Linked DNA regions of Homo sapiens. The protein of the gene in region 2 interacts with the protein of the main gene of each other region in a pairwise test. Each region holds a gene or a part of one and is shown on either strand. Other genes may lie near its edges.

The links. The genes of interacting proteins can lie anywhere in the genome.
Region 1: the proteins of MADD (region 2) and PTPRN interact in binary tests that used the Homo sapiens proteins (3 or more experiments, as listed by UniProt).
Region 3: the proteins of MADD (region 2) and VPS13D interact in a two-hybrid assay, tested with the Homo sapiens proteins (one study listed by BioGRID and IntAct).

Annotation. Positions count from the first base shown.
Region 1 is NC_000002.12:219,299,382-219,306,403, reverse strand, and holds part of PTPRN (receptor-type tyrosine-protein phosphatase-like N isoform 1 precursor), read left to right. Parts: intron 1-2,572; coding exon 2,573-2,669; intron 2,670-3,566; coding exon 3,567-3,828; intron 3,829-3,912; coding exon 3,913-4,267; intron 4,268-4,684; coding exon 4,685-4,816; intron 4,817-5,426; coding exon 5,427-5,461; intron 5,462-6,144; coding exon 6,145-6,419; intron 6,420-6,617; coding exon 6,618-6,704; intron 6,705-7,019; coding exon 7,020-7,022. UniProt on the Homo sapiens protein: Plays a role in vesicle-mediated secretory processes. Required for normal accumulation of secretory vesicles in hippocampus, pituitary and pancreatic islets.
Region 2 is NC_000011.10:47,287,118-47,294,139, reverse strand, and holds part of MADD (MAP kinase-activating death domain protein), read right to left. Parts: intron 5,173-7,022; coding exon 5,113-5,172; intron 4,750-5,112; coding exon 4,647-4,749; intron 4,352-4,646; coding exon of another isoform or gene 4,274-4,351; coding exon 4,087-4,273; intron 3,992-4,086; coding exon 3,841-3,991; intron 3,531-3,840; coding exon 3,324-3,530; intron 1,598-3,323; coding exon 1,544-1,597; intron 651-1,543; exon of another isoform or gene 258-650; coding exon 157-257; intron 1-156. UniProt on the Homo sapiens protein: Guanyl-nucleotide exchange factor that regulates small GTPases of the Rab family. Converts GDP-bound inactive form of RAB27A and RAB27B to the GTP-bound active forms.
Region 3 is NC_000001.11:12,225,407-12,233,049, reverse strand, and holds the start of VPS13D (intermembrane lipid transfer protein VPS13D), read right to left. Parts: upstream 3,021-7,643; 5' UTR 2,930-3,020; intron 1-2,929. UniProt on the Homo sapiens protein: Mediates the transfer of lipids between membranes at organelle contact sites. Functions in promoting mitochondrial clearance by mitochondrial autophagy (mitophagy), also possibly by positively regulating mitochondrial fission.

The DNA of each region.
Region 1 (7,022 bases), on a different chromosome or scaffold from region 2:
TTTCTTCACTTCTCTAATAAACTGCTTTCACTTTACTAAAACAAACAAACAAAAACTACCACAATAACTCAGATAAGAGATGAATGTGGATGGGGCCAAGGTGATTGCAGGGAAGGAATGAAGGATGAGAGAATTCTGCATTTATTTTTAAGGTAGTCAGCATTATTTCGTGAAATATTGGATATGGTTATAAAGAGAGGAGTCAAAGTTTTTTTGGGTTTATTTTGTTTGTTGATTGTTGTTGTTGTTGTTTGAGACAGAGTCTTGCTGTGTCACCCAGGCTGGAGTGCAGTGATGCAATCTCTTGCTCACTGGAACCTCCACCTCCCAGGTTCAAGTGATTCTCCTGCCTCAGCCTCCCGAGTAGCTGACATTACATGTGCGCGCCACCATGCCTGGCTAATTTTTGTATTTTTAATAGAGACAGGGTTTCACCATGTTGTCCAGGCTGGTCTTGAGCTCCTAACCTCAAGTGATCCATCTGCCTGGGCCTCCCAAAGTACTGGGATTACAGGTGTGAGCAACCGCGCTCAGCCAGGAGTCAAAGGTTTTATTTACTGAATAACTGAATCAGTGGAGATGTCACTAATTATAATGTGGAAACTTGCAAATGGTTCAACTTGGTGGGGGTGTTCAGCTTTGAATATGTTGAGTTTAAGATGTCTACTCAAGTGAAGCAGGAAGTTGAGTACATGAGACTGGATTCTGAGAGACAGAGTTCTCACCTGGAGATATAAATTTGGAATTCTTTGGCATATAGATGGTAATTACACCCATGAGGTGGATGAGATAACCAAAAGATTGAGTGTCTATTAAGAAGACCAAGGATCAAGTCCTAGATAATTCTTCTATTAAAAGGACCAGGCCAGGTATAGTGGCTCACACCTATAATCCCAATACTTTAGGAGGCTGGGGCAGGCAGGTCACGAGCTCAGGAGTTCGAGACCAGCCTGACCAACATGGTGAAACCTTGTCTCTACAAAAAATACAAAAATTAGCCAGGCATGGTGGCGAGCACCTGTAATCCCAGCTACTCAGGAGGCTGAGGCAGGAGAATCACTTGAACCTGAGAGGCAGAGGTTGTGGTGAGCCGAGATCGCACCACTGCACTCCAGCCTGGGTGATAGAGCGAGACTCCATCTCAAAAAAAAAAAAAAATGAGGACCAGGATAAAGAGAGGAACCATCAACTTCCTCTCAGGGAGACTGAGAAGGGGAAGCCAGTGGAGTAGGATTAAAAACAACAGTGTTCAGTGTCCCAGAAGCCAGGAGAAAGTGTATCAAGGAGGAGGAGTGACCAACAGTGTCAAATGATGATTACGGGATAAGTAAAATAAGATATGAAAATTGACCACTAGATTTGGACATGCAGACAAAGCTGCTCTTGATGAGAGCAGCTTTGGTAGAATAGTTGGGAATAAAATCCTGAATAAAGTGGATTAAGAGGGAATAGAAAGAAAGGAATTGGATACAGTCAGTATAGACAACTTTTTCTAGAAGTCTTGCTGCAAAGATATGGAGTGATCCCTAGAGAAGAAAGTGGGATCAAGCAGTATTTTTCTTAAGATGGAAGAAATTGCATATTGTTTGCATGGGAATAATGTGAATAATTCAGTAGAGAACAAAGGAAATTATGTAGGAAAGAAGAGAGAATTGCAAGGAGAATGTTCCTGAATAGGTGAGAGGGGATGAAATCTAGTGCTCAGAGGAACTGGCTTTAAATAGGAACACAGACAGCTCATCTAATGTGAATAAGCAAGGAGGCAGGTGTGGATGTTGGTAGATACCAGAATACAAGTTAAGAGCAGCACAGATTTTAAATCCAGAACTAGAGAAGAAAAAATGAGGGTGAAAAGTGGGAAATTATTCCTTTAGAATAAGTGACTGAACTTTCCTGAGAGCAGAGTTTTTTTGGGGGAAAGAGTCAAACAGGAGAGCTGTCTATGAATAAGATGATGATGATAATGGTGATGATGATGATGATGACGACAATGAAGATGATGATACATGTTTAAAACATGTGGATTATGCTTTAGAGTTTTCTAAGCACTTTGATTTCCCTGATCACACTTGATCTTCACAACAGCCCCCTGAAATATGTATCGTTTCCACTTTACAAACAGAGAAAGTTGAGGTTCAGGGTCAACACAAAGAATAATAACAATAGTAATAATAATTATGGTAATAGCATTTGTTAAAAGTTCACTACATGACAGGCACTATTCTAACCGTTTGATATGTATATGTGTTATTTTAATGATAATAACAATCCTAGGAGGTATAAATCCCCATTTTATTGATGAGGGAATTGAGGCTTGGAGAGGTTCAGCAACTTGCCCAAGGTTACATAATTCATCAGTAGCAAAGGCAGGATTCAAACCCAGGTGGTCTGGCTCCAATAGCTGTACCTGAGGGTGGGAAGAAGACAGCTCAGATCACCCACTGAGTTTGTCCCTCTACTCTGACAAACCCCATGAGCTGCAGGGCAGAGGGTACAGTTCTGATCCCCAGTGGTCCCCGTTACTGGATCCCCAGACTCCTGAACCAACTTACGCTGTCCTCTTTCCTGACAGGATTGTCCTGGCACGATGACCTCACCCAGTATGTGATCTCTCAGGAGATGGAGCGCATCCCCAGGCTTCGCCCCCCAGAGCCCCGTCCAAGGGACAGGTAGGCAGCCTTTCTCTACAACTCTAGCAATGGTGAGGCTGATGAATCTGTGGTTGTCCTAATTGATGGAGAGAAGGGGAAGGAAGTGGGCACCAAGGCCAGCATGCTGGGGCACAGGTAAAGAGGTGCAGGAATGGTCACTCTCTGACATGCTCACATGACCAAGAGGAGCTGAGCTCATCTCTAGGGATCCAGAAAAACGGGCATTTTTTGAATGTTTTGAAAAACATTGACATTGGCTACTTTAAAAGAAGCATCAATGTAGTCATCATGGGAGAAATTAGAATGCTGTTGGACTGAAGTTGTTCAATATTCCATTTCATTACTATGTGAATTTCTATATGACAGGAGCCACCATCATCTTTTTGTGGTTAGGGCCTCTAAAGGCATCATTCAGACTGCAAAGCAGAGGAAAGTAAATGAGGTTTAGGGAGCTCAGATGATGATACCAGGATGAAGATGGCATAGTGGTGGGGGGTGGAGGAGCAGTCCTGAATATTTGGACATATACTTGGAGAGCCAGGTGTGGGGACATGGCACACAGGGGCAACGGGGACAGCTGCAGCCACAGTTCATCTAGAGAAATTCCTGGTTGCCTTCCCCTGCTCCTGTTTGCCCCTTCTCCATCCCCAGCCTCATGATTACCCAGCCTTTGCAGTTGTTTCAGAGACTCAGCCATGCTCACCAGGGAGGCAGATACCTCTGCCCTCAGCTTGGCCCTCTGGTCCCTCCCCATTCCCACCCAGCCCATCTCTCTTCCCCTGAGGTCACTCAGTTTCTAAAGAGGTCAGGCCTGCTCTTAACCGCTGAGCCTGCCTGGCCCCGAATAGTTCTGCCTTGCAGGCTCTCTATGCCCTTTCCCCCGCTCCAACACACACACTTTGCTTTCCTCTACAGGTCTGGCTTGGCACCCAAGAGACCTGGTCCTGCTGGAGAGCTGCTTTTACAGGACATCCCCACTGGCTCCGCCCCTGCTGCCCAGCATCGGCTTCCACAACCACCAGTGGGCAAAGGTGGAGCTGGGGCCAGCTCCTCTCTGTCCCCTCTGCAGGCTGAGCTGCTCCCGCCTCTCTTGGAGCACCTGCTGCTGCCCCCACAGCCTCCCCACCCTTCACTGAGTTACGAACCTGCCTTGCTGCAGCCCTACCTGTTCCACCAGGTAAGTCCTTGACTCTGGTCCCACCCCAACCGCAGTCCCTCAGCCCGGACTTCTGCTCTTACCCAGATCTCTGGTTTTCCACAGTTTGGCTCCCGTGATGGCTCCAGGGTCTCAGAGGGCTCCCCAGGGATGGTCAGTGTCGGCCCCCTGCCCAAGGCTGAAGCCCCTGCCCTCTTCAGCAGAACTGCCTCCAAGGGCATATTTGGGGACCACCCTGGCCACTCCTACGGGGACCTTCCAGGGCCTTCACCTGCCCAGCTTTTTCAAGACTCTGGGCTGCTCTATCTGGCCCAGGAGTTGCCAGCACCCAGCAGGGCCAGGGTGCCAAGGCTGCCAGAGCAAGGGAGCAGCAGCCGGGCAGAGGACTCCCCAGAGGGCTATGAGAAGGAAGGACTAGGGGATCGTGGAGAGAAGCCTGCTTCCCCAGCTGTGCAGCCAGGTAACAAGGTCCTCAGCATCCACCTCCCTGTGAGGGCTGCTTTGGGGGAACCATGGTGGGGCCCTTCCCTGACAATCTATGCGTTTGTTAACTTGTCCTTAAAGTCATTCATACATTTAAGGAATGTCTACTGACAAGCTGTTCTATGCCAGGCACTAGGGAAGTGGTGGGGAGTGGAGTTGACGTGACTCTCCTTCCAGTGGAGAGTCAAGATGTCCTGAAGTTTGATCTGGGTCCCAGGAAGAACTTTCCCCCAAAGTGTGGACAAGGGCTGGGAAAGGGAGGGCATCTCTTGGTGTCCTGGTGTCTGGGAAGACTCTCTTAACATGCTAGTCCCTTCCCACCCTCACTCACTCATCTGCATCCCTCAAGTTCACTGCGCAATCAGCCCTAAGCTCTGTGTCTGGCTCCCAGCAGATGCGGCTCTGCAGAGGCTGGCCGCTGTGCTGGCGGGCTATGGGGTAGAGCTGCGTCAGCTGACCCCTGAGCAGCTCTCCACACTCCTGACCCTGCTGCAGCTACTGCCCAAGGGTGCAGGAAGAAATCCGGGTAAGTGTCCAGGCAGAGGGAGGGACCAATATCTCCCGGCTCCATGGAGGCCTCTTGCCCTGCCTCGAGACCACTTGGAGTAGCCTGGAGAGGAAGAGTCAGGCTTCAGGGGAAAGAGTTCCTTTGAGACATAGGGTCATTGCCAGCAAGGCAGGGAGCAAGGGGGTAGGGTGGCAAGCTTAGGAGTTAGATCAGGAAAAGACTAGATGGTGGAAGTAATGGAAAAAGCAGCCAACAGAGGGTGTGAGCAGGGAAAAGGAGGCATCGGGAAGGATGGGTTGGTGACAATGAGGGCCTAAAAACGGGCATAGCCAGTACTAAGAAGAAGCCAGTAATTGATGGGTAGAGAAATAACTGAACAAAGAATAGCTTTGAGAGAGATGGCCAATGGTAGAGGGAGGAGTTAATAAAACAGTAAATTGGGAGGAGGAAGCAAAAAGGAATGAGGCCAGGCTTAGGATGAGACCAGTAACAGGGTCTTGGTCACTGACTGAGATGAAGACCACAGCAAATGTTCCAGGCTCAGGGTCTCTGGCCCTTTCTCCCACTTGTGTTGTGTAGACCTTGGCCATGGCCATTTTTCCAGACTCTTGTTTTTCCTGTCTCGCAGGAGGGGTTGTAAATGTTGGAGCTGATATCAAGAAAGTGAGTCCCCAGCACCTCCTTGACTCATAATCACCCCATGGCAGCACGCCCCCTTGCCAAACCTAAATTTCAAATTCAGGACCTAGAATCTGTATCCTCCCACCCCTCATTTTGGGGGAAACCAAGGCCCAGAGACCGCAAGTTATTGCCTAAGGTCTCCCATCAAGTTGATGGCAGAACTGGAGCCAGAAAACTGAATTCTTAATTCATTCCTCTTTTCACTACAATCATTTCAGACCATGCTCTGAGGATTCCTAGGGGAGGAGGGAAGTTTCGAGCAGAGAGCCCTTCCTGAGCTTCTGTAGCAGGAGGAGCTCTGCTTCTTTCTGTTTCATGTGTTGGATTTCTAAGACTTTGTGGCTAAACAAAAGTCTAGAAACCATCGCCTGCCTGTTTGTCTTTTACCCTCACCCCAGCTTCTCTTGCTGCAGGGGTTTTCTGTCTCCAGCCCCATTCTGTGGATTAGTACAGACCATTTTCAATCATTCAATCCTTTATTCATTCATGCATCCACTTACTTGTCTCAGATGCTCTGGTGTCCTCTCTGTACCCAGCACTGCAGTGGTCCCTGGGGGTAGAAAGTGAAAAGCAGGTCCTGAGCTCCACTGTGGAGAGCTCCGAGTCCAGGGTACCCCTTCCCCCAGCACTGTCCAGAGGCCACACCTCCACCCTCTTCTGAACAGACAATGGAGGGGCCGGTGGAGGGCAGAGACACAGCAGAGCTTCCAGCCCGCACATCCCCCATGCCTGGACACCCCACTGCCAGCCCTACCTCCAGTGAAGTCCAGCAGGTGCCAAGCCCTGTCTCCTCTGAGCCTCCCAAAGCTGCCAGACCCCCTGTGACACCTGTCCTGCTAGAGAAGAAAAGCCCACTGGGCCAGAGCCAGCCCACGGTGGCAGGACAGCCCTCAGCCCGCCCAGCAGCAGAGGAATATGGCTACATCGTCACTGATCAGAAGTAAGGGCTGCATCCTGGGAAGCTTTCTGGTCTGCTAGGATTTGGGCTGGCCTGCCTGGCCAGAAGCAGAGGGCAGAAATCCAGACGTGCAGGGACAGGGAATTGGCAGGCTGCTCTGTACCCCTGGAGTGGCCTGTTTTAAGAAAGTGACTGAGAGGGTTGCCCCACTTTCCTTCCTCTGCCTTCTCCCATCTCCAGGCCCCTGAGCCTGGCTGCAGGAGTGAAGCTGCTGGAGATCCTGGCTGAGCATGTGCACATGTCCTCAGGCAGCTTCATCAACATCAGGTGGGGCTGGCATCTTGCTAGGGCAGTGGCCGAGATCTAGAAAGCAGCTTGAGCAAGGAGGTGGCTGGAGGGGCCTGCGGGAGGAAGAGCAGACAAGCTCTGAGCTCAGGGATGCTCCCAGCTGTACTGAAGGTACAGCCACACCCAGCCCGTTGCTGGCCCCACCCAGCATCTTCCTTGCCTAAGATGCCCCTGTAGGGCATCCCCGATCTGCTCCAGCCCCATCCTCTAACGGGGAGAGGGCCAGAGCTGGCCTCTTTTTTGAAGTCTGCGGTCTGGGGTGGAGAAGGCAGTAACATAGCTCCTATCTGGCAGTGT
Region 2 (7,022 bases):
GACCTCAGGTGACCCACCCGCCTCGGCCTCCCAAAGTGCTGGGATTACAAGCATGAGCCACTGTGCCCGGCTGTCTGACTGTTCTATTTTAACTTAAAGAAGTATTCTGAGACAGCATATTTAATACTTGCAAATTTCAACAAGGTTGTCACAAACCTGGGAACTAGACGTCAGGCTCACACCACTGTCTGCGCTGATCTGGGACTTTTTCTCCTCTGTCTCACCAAGGTCAAAGACAGGTTTGATTACTTCAGGCCCTGAGTAGGGGAAGACTTCTGTTACTCCGTGCACAAAGGCTAGGGGCAGGCTGGTAAAGGGGGTGGGACGGCAGCACAGGCTGTTCCCAGACCCGTTCAGCCCATCCTAGTCACCTTTCCAAGGACTACCCCCCACTCAGGACCCACTGGAAAAAGAGGACCCCAGATGCCTTAAGAACCAAGTAGGACAAATCAGACCTGGTCTCAATGGGTTCTCCAGCCATCTTCTCAACCTGAGAAAATTCTGAGCAAATCATCTTAAAACAGAGAAGCTCCACAAGGCTGGGCATGGTGGCTCACGACTGTAATCCCAGCACTTTGGGAGGCTGAGGCAGGTAGATCACCTGAAGTCAGGAGTTTGAGACCAGCCTGGCCAACATGATGAAACCCTGTCTCTACCAAAAAATACAAAAATTAGCCGGGCGTGGTGATGCACACCTGTAATCTCAGCTACTCGGGAGGTTGAGGCACGACAATTGCTTGAGCCCTGGAGGCAGAGGTTGCAGTGAGGCAAGATCGTACCACTGCACTCCAGCCTGAGCAGCAGAGCAAGACTCCATCTCAAAAAAAAAAAAAAAGAAAAGCTCCACGAACAAATGTCTAAACCACATTCCATGGCACTCAAGAGTCTGAGCTTCACTGGTACCTGAAACCATTTAATGGTCCCCAGGTCCCTTAATGCTTCCCAAACAAATGTGTCTAAAGGAGGTAGAAAAGGTTGGGCCCGATGAGATAAGAAACACCAGCTGTTTTGGTGGGCACTGCCTACCTCCATCCTACAACTTCTATGTTTGAGATGAAAACCACCCCCCTTGTCCCCCACCCACCCACAATGGTATGGCAGAAAGACAGAATGACAGAAAGCAAGAAAGCGTGCCTAGGCAAGCCACCAGAGAGTGGGGCAGCTACAGACTCAACATGGAGGGACAGCAACCATCTCTGCCAACTGTGCCCACAGGCCTTCTAACAGGTGTGGGAGATATCAGCCAATGGGGGGCACTAAAATAGGCAAACATTCTCCCCACCAACTCTGAAGCAACAGAGAACCAAGTTCTGGGGAGTTGTATTCAGTAGACACCTGGTTATAGCCTGATTGACACGAGGGGAGGGGGAAAGAAGCGGCCTACACACACCTAGGAGTCACATGCTACCTACCTGCTGCCATTCCAAACACGCTCTAAGAGCAAATTTGGGGTGGGGCTGACAAAGGGAGCCTGCCCCAACTGGGCCTGGGGAGTTGGCAGGTATGGAGGACTTGGGAACAGGAAAGGGCATTTGTTCCTTACTCTGTTTTTCCAAAGCTTTTTGCTTTTTCACTTCCTGGTGCTTGTTCCACAATTCTACCCCAGATGCAATGCAAGCAGGAGAGAAAGACAGAAAGTCAGAGGCTGGTCAGACAGACGAAATGGAAACCCACCCACCCAAGTCGATTCAGTCTCAGGCACTGGATTACCAACCAAGAGATACAAAGATATCTTCATGGGGAGAAGGGGCAGAAAACAAGAGATCTAACCCCTCCACCCAAACTCATGAACAGATTCCAAATTTCTAATTCCAATCCCAATGTGGCAGTAAAAACCCTGCAGAATGTTAGAGCTGGAAGTGCCCTTAACAAAGCTCCTTCATTTTTGCATGAGGAACTGGTCCTAAAGAGGCTGGAGCACTTGATCAAGATCATGTAACTTAGGATCCATTTAAACTCCCACCATGCCACACACTCTCTCTACCAAATGAGCTGGGGAAGGGCAATTTTTCAGATTCCAGATGAGACAGATGAACACCTCAAGCAGCCAGAGTTTCAGAAGGAAGAACACCAATCTTTGCTTGATTCACTGGACTGAACAAAGGCCAATTCATGCAGGCAGTTAGCATCCCTCCTCATTGCTCCTCAAGAAACCAACTCACCCCTACCTGCCCTACCCACCAGTGATCTGGAAAAATGCCTCCAGTTGAGGTGACAGAGAACATAAAATGGTCAAGACCAGCATCTTCATAGGGAAAAGCAGACAGAATGGCAACCACAGCAATTCTTTTCCTGGAAGGAACTTCAGAGTGTACTTAGTATGATTTCCTCATTTCCCAGATGAAGAGACAGATACCCTGAGAGGTGAAGTTATTTGCCCAAAGTTGCATTCCTAGTTGGAGGCTGATATGGGACTAAAACTCCAGATCTCCAGACTAGCAGGTCAGTACATTTTCTACAACATCACATGAGGCAGGAGAAAGCCAGGAGTTGACTGCTACTAGAATAATATTCTGCTGGCTAGGGAAGTGTAGCTCCCCTAAAAAGGAATCTGGTTCCATGTCACCATTTATGGGAGCATATGGCAACTGCTAATGGCCATGGCAATGAGATGTCAGCTGGAAGCAGAGTGCCTAGGGACCTAGAACCAGAAAAAGAAAGATCCAACCTCGATGACTCAAGGTCAAGCAGGGAGTGAGCCAAACAGAGGTGATGCCTAGAAAGCTCACTAAGGCACTGCCTTTGTGGGAACGGAGAAACACCAAATGTAAACGAGATTATAATCAAGTCCAGTGAAGAAGCATTTAAAGAACTGACTTGGAAACCTATACCTCAAAGATCCAGAACCCAGGGAAATGGGGTTGCCAGGCATGCCCCAGAGGAGCACATTCCAGAGGAGTATAATGGTTGGATGGGAGGACACTGGCTTCAGAGACACAAATGTCATAATTTTATAGCCCAAAAATGCATCTATAAACTTCCTGAGCACTTCCAGGAATTCTCTCCACTATGTGAAGAAATGCAGACGTAAATAAAAGGAGGGGCCAGGAGTACAGCTCACACCCCCTGCAGTAAGCCTCATTGGGCCCTCTAAACAAAACTTACCATTCTTCATCTAAGATACGGGGTGGGGGGTGGCTGTGGATGAAGCATAAAGACTAGAGAAGTACAAAGAAACACCACCAGAAATGGACACAGGCCCCCTTCCCTCTCTAAGAAGCAAAGCATGGGGCAGAGAAAGGCAGGATTCTGGATGAATTGAGGAGAAAGGGATATTTAAGAAGCCAGGACCCCTCCACCACACCAAACACACTGATACGTACCAATAGATGCTATAAAATTTTCTTCCTTTAAACTTCTGGTGTCCAGTTCCTTAGGACCCTTTCCTGTGGCACTTGGTGCCCGAGGTCCCAGTTGTGGAACTCTCAGTTGTGCCATAGCCTTTGGGTCCCCCCGCCCAGCTAGGCCAGGATCCTTGCCAACTGGGGTATTTACACTTTCTGTTGGACTTCTCTTCCGCTTGTCTGGTTCTGAGGGAAAAATATCAAGAGGTCAAGAGAAGTAGTGAGTAGGAATCAAGGCGCAGATATGAGGTGGGAGGAGCCAGGATACAGGAGGGTGCGGAATGGAAGAAGTTCAAGGAAAGATGAGCTGATGTCTTATTTTTCGTAACAAAGAATACCCACTGCGTATAAACATGCATTAGAAAATAAAATCCCAAAGCCTAATGGGAAGCAGCGTGGCACTGGGAAACGTGTCCTGGGTACACATATATTTTCTCTTCAGGAGACAAGTGGCAGAGTTAGGGATGGCGTGGTGCCCAGCAAGTACGATCCCTACCTTTACTATAGTAGTGGGTCTGGGCAATCTCCAAAAGCCCAAAGATGCTGGCCATGCCACCCAGACCCGCGTGGGCATAGGACTGCTCCAAGCTGAGGACTGTACACTTGAGGAGGTCTAACATTCCCTTGTACACCTTCCGACTGATCTCCTGCAACAATAACCCAGGGGCTAGCGTTGGCAAATTGCCTGTGGTGTTCACATCCCTCTCTCCAGTTACTCCGATTCCCTACCCCCAACACTGACCACATCCGGGATGATGTCCTGCCGGGCATCGTCCTCTGACTGCACCATGCGGTTCAGCTTGCTCAGGACAAAGACTCGCAGCTGCTCGCTCTCCAGCAGCCGGCGCACCTTTTTCATGTTGAGCCAGCCAACTCCCTGGCCGTCCAGCACGCTGTGCACCACCTCCTTCAGGAACTGCTGGTTCTCACTACAGGGTCCACACACCGCTTCTGTGGTCATCAGCTCCTTTGCAGAGCACCCCCCACCTTTCACCCAGACTAGATGTCTGCCTCCAGGGGTAAAACACAAAGCCATGTCTCTGAATGTCCAAGTGCACCACATCCCCACCTCTCTGGAGCACGCGATTTGTCCAAATACCCACCGCTGCTGATTAACCCCCCTCAACACTGTAAGCTTTCAGTTGCATGGAGATCAAGCCAGAATGAGAAGTGCTGGCAAGAAATTGATTACATCTACCCCATTGAGAGCTTCTCTCCCACTCTTGAGCATCCCTAAAGTTCTGTAGAGGAACCACCCCACCTCTGCCTGAGAACTTTTAAAACAGCTCTACCATTTATTACCTAGAATTGCTGGATCGACCCTGGGGTGATGGAGGTTCTCTTTTCACTGTTGGGCTGTGTTTAATGACAGATGACTTCTGATCCACTAACGCCCTCCTGTTTCCTGTGGCAGGGAAGGCAGGAATGAGAGACATCACTATTGTAGTACAGGAGCTCATGCCAGCACAGCCCTAAGTAGCCATGTTCCATGCCCGTTCCTCAGAAGGGCTGGGTGAGGGTAGCACCAAGGCATCATACGTAGGTAGAAACCAGCCATGGCAATGTGGAGGAGGTGGGGATGGAGACTCAGGCCACTCCACATGCACCAGCAGCAAGCCCCATGGGCAAGCATGGGCGTCACGGGGGACGGGGCAAGCAGGTCACTCATGTGACGCTGCTTGCTCCATGAGAAGGATGGCCCTCGGGCAGGCACAGAAGATGCTAGAGAAAAAAAAAAGATCATGCACAGCTCACAGGCAAGACCCACCTTCACCACTCCCGGGGCCGGCTTCAGTAACAATCTCCATTAGAGTATTTAGCCCAAATACTGGGACACAAAATACACAATTAGTAGGTGTACCACAATACCGCAACCCCTCTACCCCTCCGAGGAGCAGTAAGCCAGATAATCTGAGCATTCTCCCAAAGCTTGAGGAATGCACATAACCTTGGTTCTTGGGCACCTCAGAGCTGGAAGCCAAGTGACCAGGAGACAACCAAGGCTCTAAGAAAAGACCACCCTTAAAACTGGCCTCTCAAGCCAGGGGCGGGTAAATGACACAGGGAGCCTTCAGGTACTGAACACACACATGCATGAAACAGGGACCGCTGGTTTTCAGAAAACATCCAGCACAGAGGGCCAGGGGCCTGAGGGTATGTGCAGGGAAGCAACCCATCTTGCAGATGCTGTTGTGGGGAGTGGGGTCAGGGTATGAGGATGGGAGATGGGTGAGAGGGTAAGTGCAGCAAATGCGACAAAGCATCAGCATGCAATGAAAGAGTTTCAATCGCTCTTCTCTTCAAATGTACCAAATGAAGGCCAGTGACACTGACACCCTTCCATCCTTAGCCTACCCGGCCACATGTGGATTCCCTGGCAGTGCTAGTTCGCTCCTTTCACTGCCAGCTCTGATGTCCTTTTGCCCATTTATCCAATGTTCCCATCCTCACCTAAGAACATGTCTTAGACTCCTGACAACTTTGTTTGTTTCTGTTGGCTTCTTTTAGAGACAGGGTTTCACTCTGTCGTCCAGGCTGGAGTGCACTGGCCTAATTATAGCTCACTGTACCTCAAACTCCTGGGCTCAAATGAACCTCCTGCCTCTGCCTAACAAGTAGCTAGGATGACAGGTGTGAGCTACTGCACCCAAGTAACCTGACATTTTTTACCACTAGGAATGAGAGGTCAGTTAAAGAATACATGAGGTTGGCCAGGTGCGGTGGCTCACGCCTGTAATCCCAACCCTTTGGGAGGCCAAGGCGGGTAGATCACAAGGTCAGGAGATCGAGACCATCCTGGCTAACACGGTGAAACCTTGTCTCTACTAAAAATACAAAAAATTAGGCAGGCGTGGTGGCAGGCTCCTATAGTCCCGGCTGCTCAGGAGGCTGAGGCAGAATGGTGTGAACCCGGGAGGCGGAGCTTGCAGTGAGGCAAGATTGCACCACTGCACTCCAGCCTGGGCAACAGAGCGAGACTCTTGTCTCAAAAAAAAAAAAAAAAAAAAAAAAATACATGTTTCTCACTGCACTTCCTACCACAGTTAAATATTTCGTCATACCATCCAGAGAAAACAAAAAAATCAGGCCAGGTGCAGTGGCTCACACCTGTAATCCTGGCACTTTGGGAGGCCAAGGTGGGCAGATCACTCAAGGTCAGGAGTTCAAGACCAGCCTGGCCAACATGGTGAAACCCCGTCTCTACTAAAAATACAACAATTAGCCAGGCGAGGTGGTATGTGCCTATAATTCCAACTACACGGGAGGCTGAAGCATGTGAATCACTTGAGCCTGGATGGCGGCAGTTACAGTGAGCCAAGATCACCACCTTGCACTCCATCCAGCCTGGGTGACGGAGTGACACTGTCTCAGAAAATAAAAAAAATAAAAAATCAAATTCAGAAAAGCCCCTGAAACTGTCAGATAGCACAAACCAATTCAAATAAGGTTTCGTTTTTTGTTTTTTGTTTTTTTAAGACGGAGTCTTGCTCTGTCACCCAGGCTGGAGTGCAGTGGCGCGACCTCGGCTCACTGCAACCTCCGCCTCCTGGATTCAAGCGATTCTCCTGCCTCAGCCTCCCAAGTAGCTGGGATTACAGGTGCGTGACACCAGATGGCTAACTTTTGTATTTTTAGCAGAGACGGCGTTTCGCCATGTTGGTCAGTCTGGTCTCGAAC
Region 3 (7,643 bases), on a different chromosome or scaffold from region 2:
TGGGTGACAGAGTGAGACTCCATCTCAAAAAAAAAAAGAAAAAGAAACTCATGAAACAAACCTGAATAAAGTTGGGGGTGGGGGGAGAATTCACATTCTTTAATGATCCTCATTTAGGCCGCCCAAATTAAATGTCTCAAATTTGTTCATGAGGATCACTTATAAAATAATATACATGGGAGAGAGGCGACAGTGCTTTATCACTGTTCTTAAATGTCCTGGAACTGCATTACTGGTACCTGGGCACCAGATGACGCTGATACAATGAACAATCTTAGTCGATTATTACAAACCCCAAACTCCAGAAATCCTCTGGCTCCAGCCACGGTATTTAGATTTTGTAGGTACTACTGCCTGTTATAATAACTGGTGTTTACCAGTATTACCAAAAAAAAAAAAAAAAAAAAAAAAAGACTAATTTTAGTATTACAAAAAGTCAACATGAGGGAAACTGAGACACAAAAGTTTAACTGGGTTCTGAGATTGCTCAACTAGAAGATCCCAGTGGAAACTGTGAGCCTCAAATCTTGTTCTGATCCACCATGTCAGTCATCAGCCACCCTGCCAGGCACTACAGACTTGCCATGGCACGCATCCCACTGGAGCCAGCCTACTTTCAGGATCCTCTCCAAGCACGCTGCCCCACCTCTAGTGATTCATCTTAGTGCCAGAAGATACACCTATCCCAACTGAGAGGCTGCCATCCAACAACTACCTGAAGCACAAGGCCTCCACAAGAATGAATTCAATCTCCTGGAAAAACTGGCTTTTGTTTGTCAACAATATCTTGTACTTCCAGAGAAGATTAACTTTTATTGGTCAACAGTGACAGCAAAAAGAAAAAAACAGCATTTGGTAAAATATTTGACCAATTTCTTTCCAAAGATTTTTTTTTCTGCAAATGGAATATAAAGATATTTTTTAAGGGTAGAGTTACATAAAACTAATTATTAGCTACATTTGTTTAAAGAAGATGTTATAAGAACAATTTTTTAAAAAAAATGCTCAACAGTCTGAATAAAAGAAACATTTCTCTATTGTAACTTTTTTTTCTGGAGACAGAGTGTTGCTCCCTCGCCCAGGCTGGAGTGCAGTGACGGGATCTCGGATCTCGGCTCACTGCAACCGCCATCTCCTGGGTTCAAGCGATTCTCCTACCTCTGCCTCCTGAGTAGCTGGGATTACAGGCACCTGCCACCATCCCCGGCTAAGTTTTGTATTTTTGGTAGAGACAGGGTTTCATCATGTTGGCCAGGCTGGTCTGAAATCCTGACCTTAAGCGATCTGCCCACTTTGGCCTCCCAAAGTGCTGGGATTACAGGCGTGAGCCACCGTGCCCGGCCACTATTATAACTTGAAAGGAGTAAATTTGTGAAAACCAAATGTGAAACTGACTAATCTTACTATGGGGACTCCAAACAAATTTGAGCAAGAAGCCAAGGTCAGAGTACTCTTTATTTTTGTAGTTATTGCCACTAATTTCGGCCCTAAATGCCAACTCTGAGTGCCAATTACCAATTATCTCCAAATCAAGGGAAACAACTGTCAGTTTGTAAACAAGTTCAGGCCCTACCCTACTTGCCCTAAACGGAAAAGAATGCAAAGCACAGATTTTAAAAGCATGAGTGATTAGCATTGTGAGGCAACCTGGTCAGTAACATTGAGGCCCAAACCAGAAAGCACCCATTATTTGCTCTGCTAAGCATCTAGACCGTGCTTGAGGCCACTTCAAGGATTCCCTGAAGGAATTCAGTGTCAGCAAGGGCCGCCAGACTGGCCAGAGTCCCAAAGTGTTTACACTCCGGTCCATCAGGACTTCTAGGCAGCTGCCTGGCACTGGCACTAACCCCCACCTGGGCTCCCCTACCCAGTGGGGCGGGTGACAGTAGGGATCAGTGCTGAGCCCACGGGCGGGCAGACAGCCGGGCATGACCTTGAGCCAGGCCCCTCCCCTGAGGAGCGGCCAGACCGGGAATAGGAAGGACTGGCAACCGGACCTGGGCGTCCCTCCCCGAGGCGGCCAGGGCTGAACGCTGCCGGCGCCAGGGAGCTCCAAAACCGGGGCGGGGACGGCTGTGCGACCGGTGGCCCCACAGGAACGGCACTGCCCGGAAGGCGACGCTCCCACAACCCTCCCGCCCCCAGCTCTCGGAACCCTCAGCCCCCTCCAGGGGACAGAGACCCCACCACCCAAGTAAAACCTGGAGGGAACGGCGCCGGGATCCCATACCTAGGAGGAGTGGCTGGGCCAGGGCGTGACCCTGGGGGGTAAAAGGTAAAGAGAGGTTTTAGGCCTGATGTCTGGCATCCCACACCTAGGAGGAGTGGCTGGGCCAGGGCGTGACCCTGGGGGGCAAAAGGTAAAGAGAGGTTTTAGGCCTGATGTCTCCACGCGAGAGTGTGACCTCGGGTGGCTGATTAAGGGAGGTGGCTAAGGCATTCTAGAGAACTGACACCCCACTCTTCGGCGTAATGTGGGGGGCTCGCACACTGGGGTCCTGCATTGAGACCAAGGCTCAGGCGGACAGGCGCGGACTGACACCCCCCAATTCCAGGGCGCCAGGCTGCTGGGACCCCGGAAAGTGTGCCGGGGTCCAGCGGGGGCTCGGGCTCCCCAGGACACGGACGTCGGGGTTCCCAGAGGTTCAGCCAGCCCCGAGCCTGTGCTTGGGGAGCTCGCGGGGACTCGGACGCAGGGGTCCCCGGAGGTGGCGGGCTTGGGGCCCGGGGGGAGCAGACGCCCAGGGTTACCCCGAGGGGCTCAGACCGAGGCCGGACGACGGGGCCCCCAGGCTCCTAGCATCGCTCTCCCCAGGGTGGGCCCGGGCCCCCATGTCCAGGCGGAGCCCTAGCGGCGGCCCGCGGGTCCGCGCCGGCCCTGCAGTTCCCGACCCTGGCCCCGCCCGGCACGGAGCCGCTCGGCCCCTACCTGTCGGTGTCCCGGGCCGCCCGCCCCAGCCCGGCGCTGCGCGGCGTTTCCTCCCCGCCGCTCCTCAATGGCGCAGGCCCGCGGCGCTCAGGCCGGCCCCGACCCGACCAATCGAGCGGCCGACGCGCCGGTGCCTGGCCAGCCGAGCGCCGAGTTATCGAGGAGGCGCCCCCTGGCGCCGGCGGCCGCTCCTGCAGTGGTGCGGGCCCCTCCAGGGTTCGCGGACACTGGGGCTTATTTTATAGGTGGGGAAATTGAGTCCCAGGGGAGGGCAGGGCCACAAATGACTCTGGTTCAGACAGCATGGGAACCCAGGATTCTTCCCACCTACAACCACCCTGCCTTCCATCCAAGCGAAAGGTGCGATTGGCCGTCCGTCTGGCCCACTCACCCACAGTCCGTTCCCCACTTCGCAGCCACAGGGGCCTGTTAATTCAGACCCTGCCCTTCCCTGCTTAAAACGGCGTCCCCACCGTACTTCAGTTAAAACCCACCTCCTTACAGAGCTGCCACCAAGGTCCCACTGGATCTGGTCCCTTCCCATTTCAGCCACTTTTTCCCCGGCCGACTCTGCCTCAGCATCCTTCAGTTTCTGCCCCAGGAACTGTACCTTTGCCGTTGTCTCTACCTAGGACCCTTCTCCTCAGACCAATAGAAACACAATGCCAGCCACATAGGCAATCCACATTTACTAGCTAGTACATTTTTTTTAAACGAAAAAGAAGAAAATGAACTTCATTTTAATATATTTAATCCAATATGTTCAAAATATGATCATCTCAACATGTCGCCAAAAGAAAAAATTACTAATACAATATGTTAACTTTTTTATAGTAAGTTTTTGAAATTCGGGTATATTTTACATTTACTGCGCATCTCAGTACAAACTAGCCAGAATTCCAGTGCTCAATACCCTCTTGTGGCCAATCCAGAGCTACAGAATAGCTCTGGATATTCGTATAGCTGACTCCCTCTGGCTTCAAATATTCCACTCAGAGAGGACTTGTGCCTATCTACGGTTCCATTATGAGCTGGGCACAGTGGCTCATGCCTGTAATCCCAGCACTTCAGGAGGCTGAGGCGGGCGGATCACTGAAGTCAGGAGTTTGAGACCAGCCTGGCCAACATAGTGAAACCCCATCTCTACTAAAACTACAAAAATTAGCCGGGCGTGGTAGTGCACACCTGTAGTCCCAGCTACTGGGGAAGCTGAGGCAGGAGAATCACTTGAACCCGGGAGGCGGAGGTTGCAGTCAGCCGAGATCACCCCTCTGCACTCCAGACAGAGTGAGACTCCCTCTCAAAAATGAAAATAAAAATAAAGTTCCATTATCCATTACCCTGTTGTATTTTATTCATGGAACCTAATACTCCCTGAGATTATCTTGTTTGTTTATACATATGTTGTTCTTTCCCCAGTACCTTGAAAACAGAGATTTTATCCCTTTCACAGTGTTTCTTCAACACCTAGACATTGCCTAGCACAGAAAAGACTCAATGAGTGTGTATGAATGAACAGCTGAACACTTCCTCCTTGCATTATCACAAGAAGGGCAAGAGGGAGACCTCAGGCTCATATAAATTAGAAGATGCAGGAAGCAGAACGGCAAGGTTACAATCATGTATTTACCATAATAATTACCAACCCTCATGATGCTAAGCTAATGAGGGTGCATGTTGGGCTGACTCACTCCTGAGCAAGACTGGGGTTCCTGTATGGTGGGATCAACCTCTCAGAATCTGGATGCTGGGTCTCCTCTGGGGCTGAGGTTTGGGAGTAAAACCTGGAACTCCACAGACAGAAGGAGGAAGGAAGGCAGTCCTTCAGAGGTGAAGGACCTCGAAGTCCAGATCACCTAGCACAGACAATTGGCTGTACCTGGGAAGCTTGTTAGAAATGCACATGGCCCAGGCCAGGCGCGGTGGCTCATGCCTGTAATCTCAGCACTTTGGGAGGCAGATGTGGGTGGATCACCTGAGGTCAGGAGTTCAGGACCAGCCTGACCAACTTGGCAAAACCCCATCTCTACTAAAAATACAAAAATTAGCCGGGCATGGTCACAGGTGCCTGTAATCCCAGCTACTCTCCTGGCTAAGGCAGGAGAATTGCTTGAACCCAGGAGGCAGAGGTTGCAGTGAGCCGAGATCTCGCCATTGCACTCCAGCCTCGGCAACAGAGCAAGACTCCATCTCAAAAAAAATCCAAAAAAATACTGCACATGGCCTGGCACCGTGGCTCACACCAGTAATCCTAGCACTTTGGGAGGCCAAGGCAGTGGGGGGGATTTTTTGAGGCCAGGAATTCAAGACCAGCCTGTGCAACATAAGGAGACCCCAATCTCTACAAAAAATTATAAATGAAAAAATTAGCTGGGCACGGTGGCACATGCCTGTACTCCCAACTACTGGGAGGAGGATTGCTTGAGCCCATGAGTTCAAGGTTACAGTGAGCAATGATCATGCCTGTGCACTCCAACCTGCGCAACAGAGACCCTGTCTCAAAAATGCAAATTCCTGGGCACCATTGATTCGACCAGTATTACTGAAAGTCTTCGTGCCCCCAGTTTCCTATAAATGTTTAAATATACATTTACCATACAGCAATCCCACTGCTAGATATTAGCCAAGAGAAATTAAAACATATGCCCACACCAAGACTTATACATGAACACTCATAGCAGCTTTATTCATAAAAGCCAGAAACAAAAAAAAACAATCAAAATGTCCATCAACAGGAGAGTGGACAAACAAATTGCAACATAGTCATACAATGGAGCACTACTCACCAACAAAAAGGTGAGTAGGGCTGACGCAGGCACGATCTGGAGGAACCTCAAAAGTATTAGCTATGTGGAAAAAGACCACATACCGTAGTGATTTCATTTCTGTGAAATTCCAGAAAAGACAAAACTGTCAGAGGAACTACAGGCTACAGATGCACTACCACACCCAGCTGATTTGGGGGGTTTTGTTTGTTTGTTTGTTTGTTTGTTTGAGACAATCTTACTCTGTCGCCCAGGCTGGAGTGCAGTGGCACAATCTCGGCTCACTGCAGCCTCTGCCTCCCAGGTTCAAGTGATTCTCATGCCTCAGCCTCCCGAGTAGCTGGGATTCCCGACGTGCACCACCACGCCCGGCTAATTTTTGTATTTTTAGTAGAGATGGGGTTTTGCCATGTTGTCCAGGCTGGTCTTGAACCCCTGAGCTCAAGCATTCCTCCCACCTTGGCCTCCCGAAGTGCTGGGATTACAGGCAGGAGACACTGCTCACAGCTTTTTTCAAAAATTTAATTGACAAATAATTGTATATATTTATGGGCTACAGTGCACTGTTTTGATATCTATTTACAATGTGGAATGATTAATTCACACTAATGAACAAATCCATCAGCTAACATACTTTTTTGGATGAAAACTTTTTTTTTTTTTTTGAGACGGAGTCTCGCTCTTTCGCCCAGGCTGGACTGCAGTGGCGCTGTCTTGGCTCACTGCAAGCTCCGCCTCCCGGGTTCACGCCATTCTCCTGCCTCAGCCTCCCGGGTAGCTGGGACTACAGGCGCCCGCTACCATGCCCGGCTAATTTTTTTTGTATTTTTAGTAGAGACGGGGTTTCACCGTGTTAGCCAGGATGGTCTCGATCTCCTGACCTCGTGATCCGCCCGCCTCAGCCTCCCAAAGTGCTGGGATTACAGGCGTGAGCCACCGCGCCCGGCCAGATGAAAGCATTTAAAACCTACTCTTTTAGCAATTCTGAAATATGCAATGTATTATTTCTTATAGTCACCATTCTGAGCAATAGATCACTATAGCTTCTTTCTCTTGTTTAACTGAAACTTCGTACTCTTTGTTTTGTTTCTTTTTTTTTTTTTTGAGACGGAGTCTCTCTCTGTCACCCAGTTGCCCAGGCTGGAGTGCAGTGGCGCGATCTCAGCTCACTGCAACCTCTGCCTCCCAGGTTCAAGTGATTATCCTGCCTCAGCCTCCCCAGTAGTTGAGATTACAGATATGTACCACCACGCCTGGCAAATTTTTGTACTTTTAGTAGAGACGGTGTTTCATCATGTTGGCCAGGCTGGTCTCAAACTCCTAGCCTCAAGTAATCCACCCACCTCGGCCTCCCAAAGTGCTGGGATGACAGGCGTGACCACCATACCTGGCCCAAACTTTATACTCTTTGGTCAACATCCCCAAGTTCCCAACCCAAGAGTTCCTGGGACCACCAGGATCTCCAGAGAGATAAGAGTGTCTTTTCGTAGGTTCCTGAGACGACTGGTGGCTGAAAGTCCCTAGACAGCTTCAGAATGGGGCTGGTTTCCAGAGGGAGCAACCATGTTATTAGAGAGAGGGTGGGCCTATCTCACGCAAAAACACACACTCTTTGACCGCCTCCGACCTGCGGGGAGGATTGGAGATTGAGTTCAATCACCAATGGCCAATTATTCAGTCAATCATGCCCACGTAAAAACCCTAAAGGTGGTCGGGCACAGTGGCTCACGCCTGTAATCCCAGCACTTTGGGAGGCCGAGACAGGTGCATCACAAGGTCAGGAGATCAAGACCATCCTGGCCAACATGGTGAAACCCTGTCTCTACTAAAAATACAAAAAATTTAGCCGAGCATGGTAGCGGGCGCCTGTAGTCCCAGCTACTTGGGAGGCTGAGGCAGGAGAATGGTGTGAACCTGGGAGGCAGAGCTTGCAGTGAGCTGAGATCAGG